Regions from separate parts of the Homo sapiens genome. Here region 1 is linked to region 2. Evidence: fine-mapped expression QTL. Tissue or cell type: aorta. Region 2 holds a variant in brackets; the other region holds the start of a gene. All regions are shown on one strand. Distances are from middle to middle.

The links. PIP is the estimated chance that this variant, and not a neighbour inherited with it, causes the effect.
Region 1: OOEP starts here. The variant in region 2 is fine-mapped to the expression of OOEP in aorta (GTEx, PIP above 0.99).

Annotation. Positions count from the first base shown.
Region 1 is chr6:73,364,777-73,373,882 of GRCh38, forward strand. It overlaps OOEP (oocyte expressed protein), which reads right to left and starts at 5,121. Exons shown (of 3, transcript NM_001080507.3): 1 at 4,827-5,121; 2 at 4,430-4,609; 3 at 3,779-4,087. The coding sequence starts at 5,016. The coding sequence ends at 4,008. It overlaps OOEP-AS1 (OOEP antisense RNA 1), which reads left to right and starts at 4,928. Exons shown (of 2, transcript NR_174946.1): 1 at 4,928-5,309. It also overlaps the pseudogene RPL39P3.
Region 2 is chr6:73,390,987-73,401,231 of GRCh38, forward strand. DDX43 (DEAD-box helicase 43) reads left to right here and starts at 3,842. Exons shown (of 17, transcript NM_018665.3): 1 at 3,842-4,169; 2 at 6,703-6,758; 3 at 9,248-9,377. The coding sequence starts at 3,920. It overlaps LOC124901538 (small nucleolar RNA U13), which reads right to left and starts at 3,027; the gene lies at 2,927-3,027. It also overlaps a transcript of OOEP not described here and the pseudogene RPS6P8. RefSeq lists enhancers at 3,459-3,959, 7,360-8,017. The variant C/G (reference allele first, on the strand shown) is at 3,848.

The DNA of each region.
Region 1 (9,106 bases), 27 kb before region 2:
AATCTAGAAGGATGCAAGCCAACAGCTGGGTGCTAGGATTAAACAATAGCACGCAGTAATTCTATAATTAGGATTTTTTTTTTTTTTTTTTTTTTTTTTAACCAACCAAGAATCACTGGTAATCTTCATTTTATTTTGGAGACAGAATCTCTCTCTGTGGCCCAGGCTGGAGTGCAACGGCTCGATCTCGCCTCAACACAACCTCTGCCTCCTGGGTTCAAACGATTCTCCTGCCTCAGCCTCCCGAGTAGCTGGGACTACAGGCCCGCGCCACCACGCCCAGCTAATTTTTGTGTTTTTAGTAGAGAAGGGGCTTCACTATGTTGGCCAGGCTGATCTGACTTCAGGTGATCCACCCGCCTGGGTCTCCGAAAGTGCTGGGATTACAGGCATGAGCCACCACGCCCGGCCAATCACTAGTAATTTTTAAAAGTTCAAAGCTAACTTTAAATATAAGGTGAATGTCTATCAGACTCTTTTTGTCACCGCTAATTATCACTCCAGTTTAAAATAATCATGTATCTTACAATAAGGGAATTACCACATAAAGCTGAATTTACAATAACTTATTAGCAACTTTTAACCGCTAATCATTTTATTAAAATAGTTGACTAATTTTAGAAGAACTTTAGAACACTTTAAATTCAAAATCAACACAAAATCAGTTTCAAATGAGGCTACATCAGAGCAGAGCTAAAACTTAATGTGTATGTTGTCTTTCTCTGTGTAATACCCACCTTACCAGAATGTCAGGTTCTCTCCTTTACAAGCTGTTTTCACTGTCCTTGCCCAAACTCAGTGTTACCAATCTATTTTATGTTCATGTGTAACTTTTCTACTTTTTCTGATATCTACCCCCATTTTAATTAAGTAGCTTTATAGACTGTTTTAATATTTAAGAGGGCAAGTCTACTCTTTTTTTTTTTTTTTTTTTTTTGAGATGGAGTCTCACTCTGTCACCCAGGCTGGAATGCAACGGCATTCCACTGCAACCTCCACCTCCTGGGTTTAAGCAATTCTCCTGCCTCAGCCTCCCGAGCAGCTGGAATTACAGGCGCCCACCACCACACCTGGCTGATTTTTTTTATTTGTAGTAGAGACTGGGTTTCACTATGTTGGCCAGGCTGGTCAACACCTGTCTCAGCCTCCCAAAGTGCTGGGAATACAGGCCTGAGCCACCATGTCCGGCCCTCACAACCTTTTCAACTCATATCCAAAATATCTATGAACATCTTTCCCGGAACTGACACTTTAAGTTTCACCTATTCATATGGCTGCTTCTTTCTCTAAACACCCAGTAAATGGAAACTCTATATCATGCTGGAATTATAGATGCCATCAAGCCAAGCCAGCTGCCCAGCATGGAGGAACAGGAGAGGTTGCCCTATGCCAAGAGTCTTGAGAGTCAAAGATTTCAAATATTGCCCAAATATAGTCATATTCTGAGGTACTGGGGATTAGGACTTCAATATATGTTAATGTGTACAAAGGATGGAAGGAGTTTAGGATCATACAGTATTTTTGGAAAAATTAGAATAAGTTTTAAGCTTACCCCTTTTTCCCCAATAACAAAATATTTAATGGGCCAGGTGCAGTGGCTTATGCCTGTAATCCCACCACTTTGGAAGGCCAAGGCAGGTGGATCAGTTGAGGGCACGAGTTCGAGACCAGAATGGCCATTCTCTACTAAAAATACAAAAATTAGCCAGGCATGGTGGCAGGTGCCTGTAATCCCAGCTACTCGGGAGGCTGAGGCAAGAGAATCGCTTGAACCCGGGAGGCAGAGGTTTCGGTGAGCCGAGATTGCACCATTGCACTCCAGCCTGGGTGACAGAGTGAGACTGTCTCAACAAAAACCCAAAATGTTCAATGGTTTTATAAAAATTCCACCAGGGGTCAGGCACGGTGGCTCACGCCTGTAATACCAGCACTTTGGGAGGCTGAGGCAGGTGGATCACGAGGTCAGGAAACCGAGACCATCCTGGCTAACATGGTGAAACCCCATCTCTACTAAAAATACAAAAAATTAGCTGGGCGTGGTGGCACGCACCTGTAATCCCAGCTACTCAGGAGGCTGAGGCAAGAGAATCGTTTGAACCTGGGAGACGGAGGTTGCAGTAAGCCAAGATCGTGCAACTGCACTCCAGCCTGGGTGACAAAGCGAGACTCTGTCTCAAAAAATAAAATAAAATAAATAAATAAAAATAAAAATCCCACCAGGGCCAGGTGCAGTGGCTCACGCCTCTAATCCCACCACTTTGGGAGGCCAAGGCAGGAGAATCACCTGAGGTCAGGAGTTTGAGACCACCCTTGCAACATAGTGAAATCCCGTCTCTACTAAAAATACGAAAATTAGCCAGGTGTGTTGGCACATGCCAGTAATCCCAGATACTTGGGAGGCTGAGGCAGAAGAATTGCTTGAATACGGGAGGCGGAGGTTGTAGTGAGCCGAGATCACACCACTGCACTCCAGCCTGGGTAACAGAGCGAGACTCCATCTCAAAAATAAATAAAAATAAACAATAAAAATCTCACCAGGAAAGCTGGGCACGGTGGCTCACGCCTGTAATCCCAGCACTTTGGGAGGCTGAGGTGGACGGATCACGAGGTCAGGAGATGGAGACCATCCTGGCTAACACAATGAAACCCCGTCTCTACTAAAATACAAAAAAAAAATTAGCCGGGCATGGTGGCGGGCGCCTGCAGTCCCAGCTACTCGGGAGGCTGAGGCAGGAGAATGGGGTGAACCTGGGAGGCGGAGCGTACAGTGAGCCGAGATTGCGCCACTGCACCCCAGCCTGGGGGACAGAGCGACTCCATCTCAAAAAAAAAAAAAAAAAAAAAAAGGAATGAATAAAGAAAAATGTAAAACTGAAACAAAGAAAATATTCAACATCACCTCTAATCAAAAAAGCACAATTAAAGAGACTTGTGAGTTTAAAACGCTTGCAAAAGGCTAGAATACTTTATTGCCAAGGAGTGAATAAATTCCATGAGTCAAACCAATCCAAACTGTGCTTGAACCCACAGGGCTTTTGGCACCTTTCGCCCCAAAAATTCTACTTCCAGAAAGTGGGGCGGCAAGGATAGGAGCTGTTTTGCAGAGATTGGTAATTTCAGTACAACACGTAGTGGAAAAACAACCTGGCCCATGCCGGACACCCGTGCAGCCTCGCCTTGTAGAAAAAGGTAGACAGCCGGCTCCAAGGCAGGGCGCCATCCACGAGCCAAGGTGCCTGGGAACCCTGCTCTTCCGTGGTAAATCGAAAACTACCATTAATGAACGCTGACCGCCCAGGCTTGCTTCTTGCAACGTCATCCTCTGCCCAATGGATGCCCCACTCCAGGAAAACGCACAGCTGGTGCTCTTCGGGGGATCAATTACCAGCTTCAAAGTGAGAGCCTCAGATAAGCTGCTTTAGTAGTATGTGTGAGCTCATCAGAAATGAAATTTTAAGCCCCACCCCAAAAGTACTGAATCAGAATTCTCTGGAGAAGGAGCCAAGGAAATTGTGTTTTAACAAGCTCCCAAGGTGATTTCTTACAAGCTTTAAAGTTTGAGGACCAATTATGTAAAAACAAAACAGATCACCATTTGTGAGGTTATCTGCCCCTGCATATCCGCTCCCTGTGGGTGAGGGCCTCTCTCTGACCAGAAAATCATAAAAGGATTAGGAGTTTCAAAATGATGGGAATTCAGGAAAAAAAAACAAAAACAAAAACCTACAAAACTATCACCTGCCCACCCTTCATATCAAAACATGAGTGGGAGTCAATCTTTTATAAATTTGCTTTATTATAAGTGTGTGAAGATCTTAATGCTTTTGGCAAAATAGCCATTTCTTTATTAGAATAGTTCAAACTCACTCTTGCAACAAAATAAACCACAATCCATCAAGACACAGGAAAAAGGAATACGGGGATTTAAGAATGCTATACTTGCTTTTCTTCAACTTTAGCAGCAAAAGTTAGAAAGTTAAGATGTTCCCAACAGTAACTATGTTGTCTTAAGCAACAGGATCCTGGGGAGAGTGGGGGTCTGATGCATGGGCCTTCAAGTTCTTCTCAAGGTGTTTCATCTTCTCAGCTGGAAGAGAAGCAGTTGATACTAACCATGGACAGGGACAAGTGTTTGCTGTTTCGAACTACTCCGTGACTGGGAGTTGGGGAGGAGAGAAAGATCTGCGATAGTGCTGTAACCCAGGTGAGGCTGACTTGGGCAGTGATGGGTCTGAATCTATCAGATCTCTGCTGACTTTCCCAAGGTCCTACCCCAGGATCCCCTCCCAACAAACTTCGTACAGCTAGCTCCCTGGGGTCTGGAAACCAAGAAATTTTGAGAAGGTTAAGGGAGGATGGAAGGAAACCGAGCAAGGCCAGTATGGTCACTCGTGGCTTCCTCCACATGCAGGTTCTCAAAGACCCTCACCTCGGGCACGATGTTCTCGGTGAAACCATGCCAGGCACAGGAGCATGCTCTTCACCCGATTCTGTACACGGGGCCGCCCGAAAACGGTGATTTCGACTAGGTTCCCTGAGTCCACTATGTCCACTGTCAGCAGGGCCTGGCTCGTCCACTCCATTTCTGGAATTATGGCTCGGTCTGGGCCTAAACAAGTAAGGAAAAACTCTGAGGGGCTGCACGGTGGCAGGTTAGAAGCTGGATTTGAAGGGAATGTTGGCCAGGGAAGGGAAGAACTGGAAGGTGGGCATCACTGCAACACTCCTGGCTTGCGAATCTGGGAAAGAGACTGTAGAGAGCTGCTCTGCCAAGCCTCTCTCAGACTGGAGGTGGACAGCCCACTAGCACACCTGGGGTCGCTCACCAAAGAGCTCGTCTGCCAGCCATGCCTCTAGGTAGAACACCAAAGGGTCTCTCAGTTCCTGCACCGGAAACCACCAGGGCCGGATGCGAATCTGTGGCGGCGGAAGTGGTAACCTACGCAGCTGCTCCAGGGAGTGGGCCGGAGTCTGTTTGCCCCGCTGGGACTCAGCGGCACCAGCATCATCGACCATACTGGGACCAGCAGCCGCGGAGCGCGCTCGAGGCGGCTTTCGCAAGACCTCTTCCAGACCCAGGCGCGAAGCTCGGGCTCTCTTTTACCATATTCGACCCGCTCCGCCCCTTCCGGCGGCGCCTCGCACCGCGTCGGGGTGAGCGGGTGCAAGCGACGCCCCGGCATAGCGGCACCATTGGACACTTCCTGCGCTGCTTCAATCGCCGGGATTGCCTCTTTGACCTTGAACTAGTATTCATTTGGCCTCCTGTTGGGTCTCCAATGCTCTCCTTCGTCATCTCTGCTCGTAAGGTATGCTTAGCCTGAAAGTCCTCTGCCCACCTTATAGCTGATTAACAGTGTGAGTTTGAATTGACGACTCTATTAATAGACTGGGAATCACCTTTGCTGGCTAGGTTAAGGTTTCATCGTTGCCTCCCAAAGATAGGTATATCGGACCCAGGGCAGGCTTGTTCAATGTGTCAGTTTTCTCTGTTCTGCTCCCTGTTGTTATCTTCTGACTCTCCGGATGGTTACCATTTTTAAATCATTCAAGCAAGTGTGTCATGTTTTAAACAACACGTCAGAGGTGGTCTTATAGAACATGTAGCAAGTTAGACAATTTTCCTTTATTTCCAGTATCCTAAGACAACCATTATCGATGGACATTTTTTCCCAATGTTTGTAATTTTAATTAAAAATTTGGATTATGAAAGGTTTCACACATCCAAAAAAGTAATATAACACGGCCATGTACCCTCCCCGAGTTTAACAGATGTTGACATTTCCCCACATTTGCCTCACTCCTCTGTTTTTAAAACAGATATTACTCAAGCATCTTTCCTTTCCTTCTCCAGAGGAAATCATCCTGAAGCTAGTGTGTATATATCATCCCCATGCATGTCCTTACACATTTTCTACTATATTTGTAGAAATATTGTTTGGTTGTTTCAGAATAGTATCTGCTGAATATACTATTTCGTTCTTACAATTAACTATGTGTTTGTTTTAAAACTTCTATTTTTCTGAGATAGGTCTCACTCTCTTGCCTAGGCTGGAATGCAGTGGCACGATCTCGGTTCACTGAAGCCTCGACCTCCCAGGCCTAAGCGACCCTCCCATCTCAGCCTCCTGAGTAGCTGAGACCACAGGCACCTGCCACCACACCCAGCTATTTTCCAGCTCTTTTTGTTGTTGTTGTTGTTTGTCTGTTTGTAGAGACAGGGTCCCACTATGTTGCCAGGCTGGTTTTGAACTCCTAGGCTCAAGCAGTCCTCTCACTTTGGCCTCCCAAAGTGCTGGGATTACAGGCGTGAGCCACCACAGCCAGCATAGAAGAAAAAACTCAAAATAGTGAAAAGCATGTTCCAGACTCCACATGATCATCTAGGACTGTGTGGAGGTTCCAGTTTTCTGCCCCTGATCCCACCCCCTCTCACCCTCAATGGTTTCTGAGAAAACTTGACTATCAGGTGTGCAGGGCATACTTACAGGAAAACAAGATTTAGCTATGGCTCTGATGCAATAAACATTTAAAACCTTAACCTGGCCAGGCAAGGTGGCTCATGCCTATAATCCCAGCACTTCGGGAGGCCAAGGCAGGAGGATCACTTGAGGTCAGGAGTTTGAGACCAGCCTGACCAACATGGAGAAAACCGGTCTCTACTAAAAATACAAAAATTAGATGGGTGTGGGCCAGACACGGTCACTCATGCCTGTAATCCCAGCACTTTGGGAGGCTGAGGCGGGCAGATCACCTGAGGTCGGGAGTTCGAGACCAGCCTGACCAACATGGAGAAACCTAGTCTGTACTAAAAATACAAAAGATTAGCCGGACATGGTGGTGCATGCCTATAATCCCAGCTACTCAGGAGGCTGAGGCAGGAGAATCACTTGAACCCAGGAGGCGGAGGTTGTCGTGAGCCAAGATCACACCATTGCACTCCAGCCTGGACAACAAGAGCAAAACTCTGTCTCAAAAATAAAAAAAAATAAAAATAAAAAAATTTGGCCAGTGTGTGGTGGTTACCTGCAATCCCAGCTACTCGAAAGGATGAGGCAGGAGAATTGCTTGAACCCCAGAGGCAGAGGTTGCAGTGAGCCAAAATGGCACCACTACACTCCAGCCTGGGCTACAGAGTGAGACTCCATCTCAAAAAACAAACAAAAACCCCTTAACCTAATCAAGGCCAGATATTGTGGCTCGTGCCTGTAATCCCAGCCCTTTAGGAGGTGGAGGCTAGCAGATCGCTTAAGCCAAGGGGTTTGAGGGTGCAGTGAGCCATGATCACACCACTGCACTCCTGCTTGGGTGACAGAGCGAGACCCTAAAAATAAACCTAAAAAAATTAAAGCCTTAATCTAATCATGAGACGCACTTACATTACTGTAGACAAAGAATATTTTACCCAGCATGTATAGAATTTTAACAGCTTCTTTAGGGGGACTGTGGTGATCTGAGCCACACAGGAATAAGTTAACTTCTCTCAAATTCCACTTCCTGGTGTGGAAAAGATGGCACCCCATTATCTTGTGGGGATCTTCTGCCATAAACCCCACATAAATCCCCAGCATGCTGGACACCGTGAAGCAGTTAGTCTCAGATACAACTCAGTCTCAGGTGTAGCCCAACAGTGGCTAGTTCAGTTATTTCTTCCTCAAGGAAGAAATGATCCTGTGGGATTACTGCTCTCCCCTGAGGAAAGAACCTCCCTGCTCAGTGAGAGGCCAGAATCTGATTCGCAAGTGTTGGTTTCGCATCTCTCAGCTTTGGGGAGACCGATAGGCCTTTGCACCTGAGCCTGCCAAAACAGGAGGGCTATTGTGCAAGAAAACCTTTTGGGAGCTCAGTCAGTCACGTGGGCCTCCTTGGAAGCCTGGGGACAAGTGGGCAGTTTTCCCGAGTGCATGGAAGCCAACACCAGAGACTGAGGTGGAGAGATGCACTGAGCCAACTTGGCTGGGTTAATAGAACACTTTTCCCGCCATCTGGGTTAGCTTCTTGGGGTGCCAGGGATCCTGCAGTGGGCCTGACGCCAGCCCGAGATCAAAATGGGAAAGCGGCCAGAGCAAACTGACGTTTCACAGAGCTCTTAAGGGCCGGAAGATTCTTTCTCACCTTCTCTTTTTCTTTCCTTTTTTTTTTTTTTTTTTTTAAAAACGAAAGGCCTCACATATTTATTACTGAATCCAGCCAACCAACGTGTTCATAACAGATTCAGAGAGGAAAACACGTCGAAATCTCCAGATAGTGGTGACATTTTCAGCTTGATATGGTAACATGATCGTGACCTTCAGACAGCATAAATATGTGTGCCATCTCATGTGCAATTCCTTATAGACCCAGCTTGGTTCTTCTCCAATGTCTCCTTTTGGAGTTGTACCTGATTTTATTTCCAGTTTTCATCCGAATCCACTGGGGAATGGGACGATTTTGCTTTTGTTTCTTGGCCAGGAATCGCTTAATCCTGAAAGTCTTGTGAGAAGACATGGCGAGCAGCGGAGTCAAGAACACACCACGATGGCGGAGAAAGGAAGAGGGCTCCTTCTCTTCTTTTGTTTTCTTTTTTGAGACAGGGTCTCACTCTGTCACCCAGGCTAGAGTGCAGTGGCACGATCTCAGCTCACTGGGTAGCTGAGGCAGGTGCATGCCATCACACCCACTGTAGAGACAGAGGTCTCCCTATGTTGCCCAGGCTGGTCTCGAACTCCTGGGCTCAAGCAGTCCTCCTGCCTTGGCCTCCCAAAATGTTGGACTACAGGCATGAGCCACTGCAACTGGCCAGGGCCAGAAGATTTTAAGTATGCAATTATTTTTTATTTATTTATTTATTTAGAGACGGAGTTTTGCTCTTTTGCTCAGGCTGGAGTGCAATGGCGAATCTTGGCTCACTGCAACCTCCGCCTCCTGGGTTCAAGTGATTCTCCTGCCTAGGCCTCCCAAGTAGCTGGGATTACAGGCATGCACCACCACACCCAGCTAATTTTGTATTTTTACTAGAGGTGGAGTTTCACCATGTTGTCCAGGCTGGTCTCGAACTCCTGACCTCAGGTGATCTACCCACCTCGGCCTCCCAAAGTGCTGAGATTATAGCCTTGAGCCACTGCGC
Region 2 (10,245 bases):
TCTTTCCTCACCACGTGAGAACACAGTATCAAAATGTTAAATCCGCCGGGCTTATTTTTGGCTGGACTCAGAAGCTCTCAGAGAGGACAGTCTGTGTCTCTTGGCAATTTGTTCCTGGTGTTTTTCTTTGGCTTCCTTTATTCTCTTGTCCAAAAGTTTAGTATATTCTGTGGCCTCTTCCTTATTTTTTTTAGTAGGTTGTTTCTTCAGAGCAATAAGCCAGGTGTTTGTGTTGCGGGACATGAGGAGTAACAACACACTGAGTCTTGGGTGCTTTGGCCCTGTGTGTCTTATCTTTGTTATAACAAAGAGCTTTCTTATAACATATTGGTGGACATCATCTTTTTAGAGAAATTGAAGTTTTTGGATTCTGCTAGCTCTTTTGGGTCCCGGGGGATGAGGCAGTATATTATCAGGCAGTTCAGGATTAGCCTTCTCTCTCTAACAATAACTGAGTTGAGAATACTCAGATTGGCATCCACAATACAACCTTGAACAGATTTGTGCATTCTTTCTTCAGTTCTCCTTGGAGGAGAGGAATACCCCTTACTCAGTAGCAGGCAGACACAGTCTTGGGTCAAAATACCCTGCTTCATGAGGAAGCCTCGTCTGTTGTCCCCACCACTGATTCCGACCACATAACCCTTCTATTCTTCACCTAGAGCATCAGCATCAACATCTGTGACTATAGCTTCTCAGAAAAAGTATGACATTTGCAATCCTCATCCACTTCAAAGAGATTCTGGCAGCCAGAGGCTGGGAAGGAGACATTCAGCTTCATGTTGAAGCAGCTGATTGTCTCTGAGGCACCATGAAAAGGAGAGGTTTTTATAAGTGTTGTTTATCAAGAGAAACTATTTCTTAGCCCACATATTCCCATTTCTTAGTTCACGAACACAGGTCAGTGACAAGCACCTGAGGTTTCTTCAAAGCACTGGAAGCCATTGTTTATGAGTCATGGTTATTGTCTTTGATGGGTATGTCCTTCCTGGCTGTTGAAAGTTCCTAGTTTACGTGAAGGTTCACTCTCAGTGTTAGAATAATTTTGGCCTCATAGAATGAGTTAGGAAGTATCCCTCTGCTTCTACTTTCTGGAAGAGATTCTATGAGGCCAGCATTACCCTAATACTAAAACCAGTCAAAGACATTACAAGAAAAGTACAGACCAGTATTTCTGACTAACATAGATGCAAAAATCCTTAATAAAATCTCAGCACGTTGAATCCAACAAAATTCCTTTCTAAAGATTGTTAATACTACCCATTTCAGATTAAAGATTAGAGAATGGAGATTAAATGCCTATCATTTATTTAATGTTTTTTTATCTTTTTTTTGAGATGGAATTTCACTCTTGTTGCCCAGGCTGGAGTGCAATGGCGCAATCTTGGCTCACTGCCAACTTCTGCCTCCCAGGTTCAAGCAATTCTCTCACCTCAGCTTCTCAAGTAGCTGGGATTACAGACATTCGCCACCATGCCTGGCTAATTTTTTGTATTTAGTAGAGATGGGGTTTCACCACGTTGGTCAGGCTGGTCTTGAACTCCTGACCTCAGATGATCTACCCACCTCAACCTCCCAAGGTGCTGAGATTACAGGTGTGAGCCACCGCGCCTGGCCTATTTCCTAGGTAATCTTTTTTTTTTTTTTTTTTTTTTTTTTTTTGAGATGGAGTCTCTCGCTCTGTCATCAGGCTGAAGTGCAGTGGCACAATCTTGGCTCACTGCAACCTCTGCCTCCCGGGTTCAAGCAATTATTCTGCCTCAGCCTCCCAAGTAGCTGGGACTACAGGCGCACACCACCACGCCCAGCTAATTTTTGTATTTTTAGTAGAGATGGGGTTTTACCATGTTGGCCAGGATGGTCTCGATCTCTTGACCTTGTGATCCAGCCGCCTCTGCCTCCCAAAGTGCTGGGATTACAGGCATGAGCCACCACATCCAGCCAATATTTTTTGCATTTTTATTAGAGATGGGGTTTCACCATGTTGACCAGGCTGGTCACGAGCTCCAGACCTCAAGTGATCTGCCTGCCTCACATTCCCAAGGTGCTGGGATTACAGCCATGAGCCACACCATGCCTGGCCTGGTGTCCACTGTGTTTGATGGATGATTGAACTGAAAAAAAAAAAATTTTTTTTTTTTGAGACAGGGTCTCTGCTCTGTTGCCCAGACTGGAGTGCAGTGACACCATTTCGGCACTTCGGCTCACTGTAGCCTCAACCTCCCTGGCTCAGTGATCCTCCCACCTCAGCCTCCTGAGTAGCTGGGACTACAGCCTGTACCACCACACCCGGCAGGGTCTCACTATGTTACCCAGACTGATGTTGAACCTTGGGGCTCAAGAGATCCTCCGCCTAGGCCTCCTAAAGTGTTGAGATTACAGGTATGAGTTATCCCTGCTGGCCTAAACTGAAATTTGTTCAGATAATTCAAAGATCCTAATCAAAGGAGTGCACTTGCAGCTGGCTTGAAGCCCTGGAGTAGTAGTATGTCCAGCCACAGAGCCAGGCTGCAGTGACGGTAATGCTTCAGGAATCTATTCAATTTATTTCCTTAGCTCTAAAATTATGGCAGGCCAGGCACTGTGGCTCATACCTGTAATCCCTCAACTGTGTGAGGCCAAGGCAGGAGGAGTTGGATACCAGCCCGGGCAACATAGGGAGGTCTTGTCTTTACAAAATAATTAGCCTGGCATGGTGGTGCACACCTGTAGTCCCAACTATTCGGGAGGCTGTGGTGGGAGTATCACTTGAGTCCAACAGGTCGAATCTGCAGTGAGTGATCGCACCACTGCACTCCAGCCTAGGCGACAGAGGTCAAAAACAAAACAAAAGAAAACAAACAAAAAAAACATAGCAAACATCCAGAAGACTGTGTAGAGCAATGAATGTCTCTCAAGCCAGTGATCTTTTTCTCTTCATTTTTCACATCAGGTGGGTAGTGTGCCCACTTCGTAACAAGGTTTGAGGGAGGCACATTTGACACAAGAGCATGAAAACCCAATCACACTTATGACTTACAAAAGGATCAAGTCAGTGATCTTTAAGCTGTGGGCCATTAAATACATTTTGTGAGCCGAGTGCAGTGGCTCAGGCCTGTAACCCCAGCACTATGGGAGGTGGAGGTGGGAGGATCACTTGAGTCCAGGAGTTCAAGACCAGCCTTGGGCAACATACTGGGAACTCCCATCTCTATTAAATTTTTTTTTTTTAATTTTGTGGATTACAACCATTTCAAAAACTAAAATAAGCGTAAATGTATCAAAATGCAGCTTACATAGCGAGGATAAATGCTGTTTTGTCAATCTGTTGTTTCAAGTTTTTTATGTGTGGATTGGGTCACCTTGTAACAGTGACTTACCTTTATGGGTCACGGTTGAAAACATTTCCGGTGCAGTGGCTGACTGTAATCCCAGCACTTTGGGAGGCCGAGGCTGGAAGATCACTTGAAGCCAGAAGCCAAGAGTTCAAGACCTGCCTGGGCAACACGGCGACACCCCGTCTCTATTTAAAAAGAAAAAAAAAAGTTTCCAAGGCACTGAGATGCCAGGAACCCGAGGTGTGTGTCCAGTAGGGGAGGGAGCAAATTGGGCGTTTGGAAAAAGTCCCACGCCTGGAAAGGAATACACAGTGGGGGGGTGGGGGGCGGGGCACATCGACTACTTCAAGGCACACTCCCACGGTTCAGAAAACCGATTGGCTAAAACTGGGAAAGTCCCGCCCACAACGCTCACTGGCCAATGGCTGCGTGAAATCAGTGCGAAGTGGGCGGGATAGAGAGCGTGGGCGGGGGGGCTAGCCTCGTGCGGGCTCCTTAAGTAGCGGCTGCGTGGCTTCCCTGGCACGCTA[C/G]TCTTACGACGTCACGGTCAGGTGGTGCAGAGCTGGACGGCAACGACGTCGGACGCGCCCCTTCTTGGAACAATGTCCCACCACGGAGGAGCTCCCAAGGCCTCTACGTGGGTCGTTGCTAGTCGGCGAAGCTCGACAGTGTCCCGAGCGCCAGAGAGGAGGCCGGCGGAGGAGTTGAATCGAACAGGTCCTGAGGGATATAGTGTCGGCAGAGGTGGTCGCTGGAGAGGCACCTCTAGGCCCCCGGAGGCCGTGGCCGCTGGTCACGAGGAACTGCCGCTGTGTTTTGCTTTGAAGAGCCACTTTGTTGGCGCGGTAATCGGTGAGAATGGGAGTGGCTGGCAGGGCAGGATAGGTGGGGCCAGGGGCGGAGCCTGGGCGAAGGCATTTCCTCCCCACTGCCTCACCTCCAATCAGCTGCCACCTAGTGAGGTTCAGGTCTCTCCCAGAGCTATTTGTAAAACCTGGGGATAGAGTATAATTTAATCTGGCCGGGCGCGTTGGCTCACGCCTGTAATCCCAGTATTTTGGGAGGCCGAGGCGGGCGGATCACCCCAGGTCAGGAATTCGAGACCAGCTTGGCCAACATGGCAAAACCCTGTCTCTACTAAAAATATATATATTAAAAAAAATAGCTGGGCGTGGTGGCGCGCGCCTGTAATCCCAGATACTCCGGAGGCTGAGGCAGGAGAATGGCTTGAACCCGGCGGCAGAAGTTGGCAGTGAGCTGAGATCGCGCCACTGCACTCCAGCCTAGGTGACAGAGCAAGACTCCGTCTCAATTAAAAAAAAAAAAAAAAAGTAATTTAATCCACCTTTTGGTGTTTATACAGACAATGTATTTGGGAGAGCAACTCCTAGAAGACTTATGAAATCTTAGGGCTGAAGAGGGATGCTTAGAACAGGCCTTTTAACAGACAGCTAACCCCAGAATGAAAAACAAAACTTAATCAGTCTTTCTATGAGTACCATTTAGAGCCAGAAATCAAAGAAAAGCTATAAGGTCATTGTAGGGCTGCCTAGAGCAGTTGTATCTTGCTTTTAGTTTCCTTAATTTTTAAAAAGTTAAAAACTTTTCTTACTACATCTTGAGTGTTAACATTCAATTCTGAATTTTTAATTTTTTTCTTTCTTTTGATTTTTTTTTTTTTTGAGGCAGCTCTGTGGCCCCAGCTGGAGTGCAGTGTGGCGTGATCTCGGCTCACTACAACTTCCACCTCCCGGGCTCAAGCGATTCTAGCACCTCAGCCTCCCTAGTAGCTGAAATTACGTGCGCCACCACACCTGGCTAATTTTTGTGTTTTTAGTAAAGATGAGGTTTCACCATATTACCCAGGATGGTCTCGAACTCCTGTGGATCCACCCACCTCGGCCTCCCAAAGTGCTGAGATTACAGGCGTAAGCCCGGCCCATTTCTGAATTTTTTTGAAAAGCATTTAAAAATGATTAGAATGATTACCCCATTGATTGCCATTAAGCCCGAGTATAAATTGCCACATTTTACCTATTAGGTGTATTTCACCCTTTTTAAAACCTGAGAAAAATGAATAGATGGAGGCTGCTACAAAATAGTGCATTGTAAGACTAATTGCTGTACTACCCAGAGACTCATTGGCCTTTCAGAAGGCTTGGGCTCAGATCTGAAGAATGATGCTCCAAGAAAGAAAGCCACTAGGTTTGCAATAAAAATCACTTAAGTTAATACTTAGCAGATGAAAGGGCACTGTGCTACAGAGCACTCACTTGATGTTGGATCTGGATCCATCTTTTTTATTGTAAAAAATGAAATACCCTCTTTTAAACGTATATCACAATACTAATAATAAGCACAATGTTGTATCCCAGATCTCTGGAACTTGCATGACTAAAACTGTATACTCATTGAACAGCTCCCCATTTTTTCCTGCCCCATCCCAGGGACCCACCATTTACATTGTTTCTGAGTTAGATTACTTTAGGTAATCCATATAAGTAGAATCATGCAGTAATTGTCTTTGTAATTGGCTCATTTCTCTAAGAATAATATCCTCCAGGCTTACCCATTTTGTAGCATGAGACAGGATTTTTTTCCTTACTAAGGCTGAATGGTATTCCATTATTAAGTATATACCTTACTTTATCTATTAATCAGTCTATGATAAATGGGTAGCTTCCACCTTTTGATTTCAGTAGTGTTATTATGAAAATGGAAGTGCAATATATCTTTGAGACTCAGCTTTAAATTCTTTTGGATGTATACCCCAAGTGAGACTGCTGGATCATATGTTAATTCTGTTTTTAATTTTTTAGTTAATCTATACTGTTTTCCATAGTGGCAGCACCATTTTCAATCCCACCAACAGTACACAGGGGTTCCAATTTCTCCACATTCTTACCAACACTTTTTTTCTGTTTTTGATAATGGTCATCCTACCAGATGTGAGGTGACAATCATTTTGTGGTTTCGATTTGCGTGGACCTGATTAGTGATGTTGAACATCTCATGCCTGTTGGCCATTTGTATGTCATTGGAGAAATGTCTATTCAAGTGTTTGCCCATTTTTCAAAACTTATTTGTTGAGTTGTATGAAAGAGTTCCAATTTCTACATCCTCTCCACCAGTTTGGACCCAATTAAGTTTTGTGCAAGCTGATACAGAATCCATAGTCTCCACCTGTCTGGGATAAGAGTCTCCTAAAACCCACCAAAATTTGGAATAGAACCTCTTACTTCCCTCTTTCCAAACAAAAAATGATTGTTGAACCCTAGGAGCATTTGGGGGGAAGAACTAGAGAATGTTTGTTGAGGAAAATGGGTAAATTTTCAACTTACTAATTTCAACTTATAACAATATATTCCTTTATTTTTAAAAACAGGTCGTGGTGGGTCAAAAATAAAGAATATACAAAGTACAACAAACACCACAATCCAAGTAAGCCATCTGTGTTTTTCGGCCCTTAAGAGAGCATCATGCATTTCTAAGGGAGCACCTAACTCTACTTTTCTTTTTAAGACAGCCTCATTCTGTCTCCCAGGCTGGAGTGCAGTGACGTGATATCAGTACAACCTCTGCCTCCTGGGTTCAAGCAATTCTCCTGCTTCAGCCTCCTGAGTAGCTGGAATTACGGGTTCCCACCACCAAGCCCAGCTAATTTATTTTATTTTATTTTTTTATTTTTAGTAGAGACGGGGTTTTACCGTGTTGGCCAGGCTGCTCTCAACTCCTGGCCTCAAGTGATCCACTTGCCTTGGCCTCCCAAAGTGTTGGGATTACAGGCATGAGCCACTGCACCAGGCCTTAACTCTAATTTCTGCTGAGTTATTAACATACTAGGGTAAATTAGGTAAGTTGCCAAAGTTCTTCATACTCCTTATTCTCAAGAAGCCACCTGAATTTTAAGCTGTTCCAGGTGTAGGTTTTGGGACTCTTGGAGGTAAAAATCTTTTTTATTTTTTTGAGACAGAGTCTCACTCTGTCGCCCAGGCTGGAGTGCAGTGGCACGATCTTGGGTCACTGCAACCTCTGCCTCCCGGGTTGAAGCAATTCTCCTGCCTCAGCCTCTGGAGTAGCTGGGATTACAGGCCCCCGCCACCATATCTGGCTAATTTTTGTATTTTTAGTAGAAATGGGGTTTCACCATGTTGGCCAGGCTAGTCTTGAACTCCTGACCTCGGGTGATCCGCCCACCTCTGCCTCCCAAAGTGCTGGGATTACAGGCGTGAGCCACCAGGCCCAGTCGGAGGTAAAAATCGTTAGAGATAATCTGCATAAGAATGAGATCACTGGAATATTCGGAGGTAAAAATCGTTAGAGATAATCTGCATAAGAATGAGATCACTGGAATATTCATCATGTCCAAAAGGTCTTCCTTCCAGAGAGAACCCCTTTCCTCAAACTTTGGCTAGCTCTTGTATTCTCAATCTTAGTGAATGGTAGCAACATTCACTGAGTTTACAAGTTTGTAATCTGACTATCCACATTGGTATTTCCTTATTCTCATTCACCGCTAGGTCTTGACTATTTCTTGTACTTCTCAAGGGGAATGTCATCATTTGCCTTCCCCACTAACTGTATGTCCTGCTTCCATTTGTATCCTCTAATCATTCTCCACTGTGGTCAGAACAATAATTTTATTTTTTTATATTTTTTTGAGACGGAGTCTTGCTCTGTCGCCCAGGCTGAAGTGCACTGGTGTGCTCTTAGCTCACCGCAACCACTGCCTCCTGGGTTCAAGAGATTCTCCTGCCTCAGCTTCCAGAGTAGCTGGGATTACAGGTGCCCTTCCAGCTCACCTGGCTAATTTTTGTACTTTAAGTAGAGACAGGGTTTCACTATGTTGGCCAGGCTGGTCTCAAACTCCTGACCTCAAATAATCCACCCGCCTCAGCCTCCCAAAGTGCTGGGATTACAGGTGTGAGCCACTGCGCTTGGCTAGAACAATCATTTTAAAACACAAATTATTTGTGTCCTTTTCCTATGTGAAAGCCTTTCATAGTATCTCAGGCCTGTAAGTCTAGACTCCTTAAAGTTGCTGACTTGATTCTGGCCTGTTCACTCTCTCCAGTGTCCTCTCCCCTAATTCCTTGAGTACTCCACCCACTTCCTGACATACGCTGCTACCATAGCTTTTTCCTCATAAATAATTCCTTCTCACCTTTCAGGGAAGTCTAAGGCCCCCATTCTGTGTAGCTGTCCATTTCCATAGCATCCCATAATGGCCTCGTTTCAGCACTCATACAGAGTTATAGTGCGTGTAAATACTGTAGTTGATAAACATTGTTTGAATTGCCAACCTAAGACAAAATTTGGTGTATAGTATTTTCTAGATAAATATTGAATCCATTAGGGTATTTGAAATTATGGATGTTGATAGGTGTTACTTGTAGATTCTATTCACAAAATGTGTCAGTCTTGTAAACGTAAGCCCCTGACAGTATACATGAGTTAAGGATAGAATCCCATCAAGTTAAAAATTTACCTAAGTAACCTGGCAGTTCAGTGAACTCTCTATATAGTGCATAGATTATGTCATTTCAGCCCTACAATTCTGTAAAATTAGCGAAACAAATACCATTTTATAGGTTGGAGACCTCAGAATCAAAATAATATTACCTGTCAGGTTAGTGCCTTAATTATTTCTCTACACTATTTGCTGAGTTTATTCCCTAGCTATCCAATTTTAAATGTTCAGGTTGTCCTGCCCCTCTCCATCTGACTAGGAGGTAAATCCCAGAGTAAATATAAGTAGTATTCCTCTCTAACTAGAAATTTAGACATTGATTGGTGGTAATACTGTATTTACTTTATACTGTAATAGATTTTGAAGTTGAGTGATTGTTGGAAGGGGTTAGGGGCTTAGGGAACTTTTTATGTTTTTTAGGGAAATTTTAAGTCTCACCTCTTTTTCCCCTTGTACCTAGATAATACAAGAACAACCAGAATCATTAGTCAAAATTTTTGGCAGCAAGGCAATGCAAACGAAAGCAAAAGCAGTGATAGACAATTTTGTTAAAAAGCTAGAAGAAAATTACAATTCAGAATGCGGAATTGGTAAGTAATTTTCTCCCACTGAACCCCTTTAAAAGTTTTTAATTTCATTCAGTGTTATAAGCCATTATACCTGATTTCACTTTCTGATTCAAAGCATTAGGCTGCCATAAATGCAGTCTTAATGATTTTTTACTATGAATGAAAGCCCAGAATATTTTTCCTCAAATTAAAATACCAGAGCTCTATGTTCATGCCTAGCAGTTTTACTTTTAGCCACAGGTAAGTGAAAATGAAATAACCCTTTATTTTTATTTATTTATTTTTTGTCTTTGTATTAATCTAGTTCTCACAAGCAGGGAAATAACCCTTTAATACACACACTTTAGTGTTAGTGGGTAGAGTAAGGATTGGTCCCAGGATCCTAACCCTAGTCTTGTCTTCAGATTCATGGCTGACATTGAAAACTGCTTAAATATTTGGTTATTTTAAAAATCTCAGATCTGTTTAGAATAGAGAAAACAATTACTGAATCATATCTAGATGCAATGTGAAAGTAGAATAGAGACACCTGGGTTTAGAAGGCACCATTGCCTTTTAGTGTTTCTTGGGGAAAAAGACAAGGTCTAAGATTCTATTTTTATATCTGACTCATTTATTTATTTTTATTTTTATTTTATTTTTAAAATTGTTTTGAGACAGGTTCTCACTGTGTTTTCCAGGCTGGAGTGCAGTGGTGTGATCATGGCTCATTATAGCCTTGACCTCCTGGGCGGGAGTGATTCTCCCACCTCAGCCTGTCAAGTAGCTGGGACCACAGGTGTGTGCCACCACACCCAGCTAATTAAATTTTTTGTAGAGTAGAGATGGGGTTTCACCACGTTGCCTAGGCTAGTCTTGAGTCCTGAATTCAAGCGATCCTCCACACCAG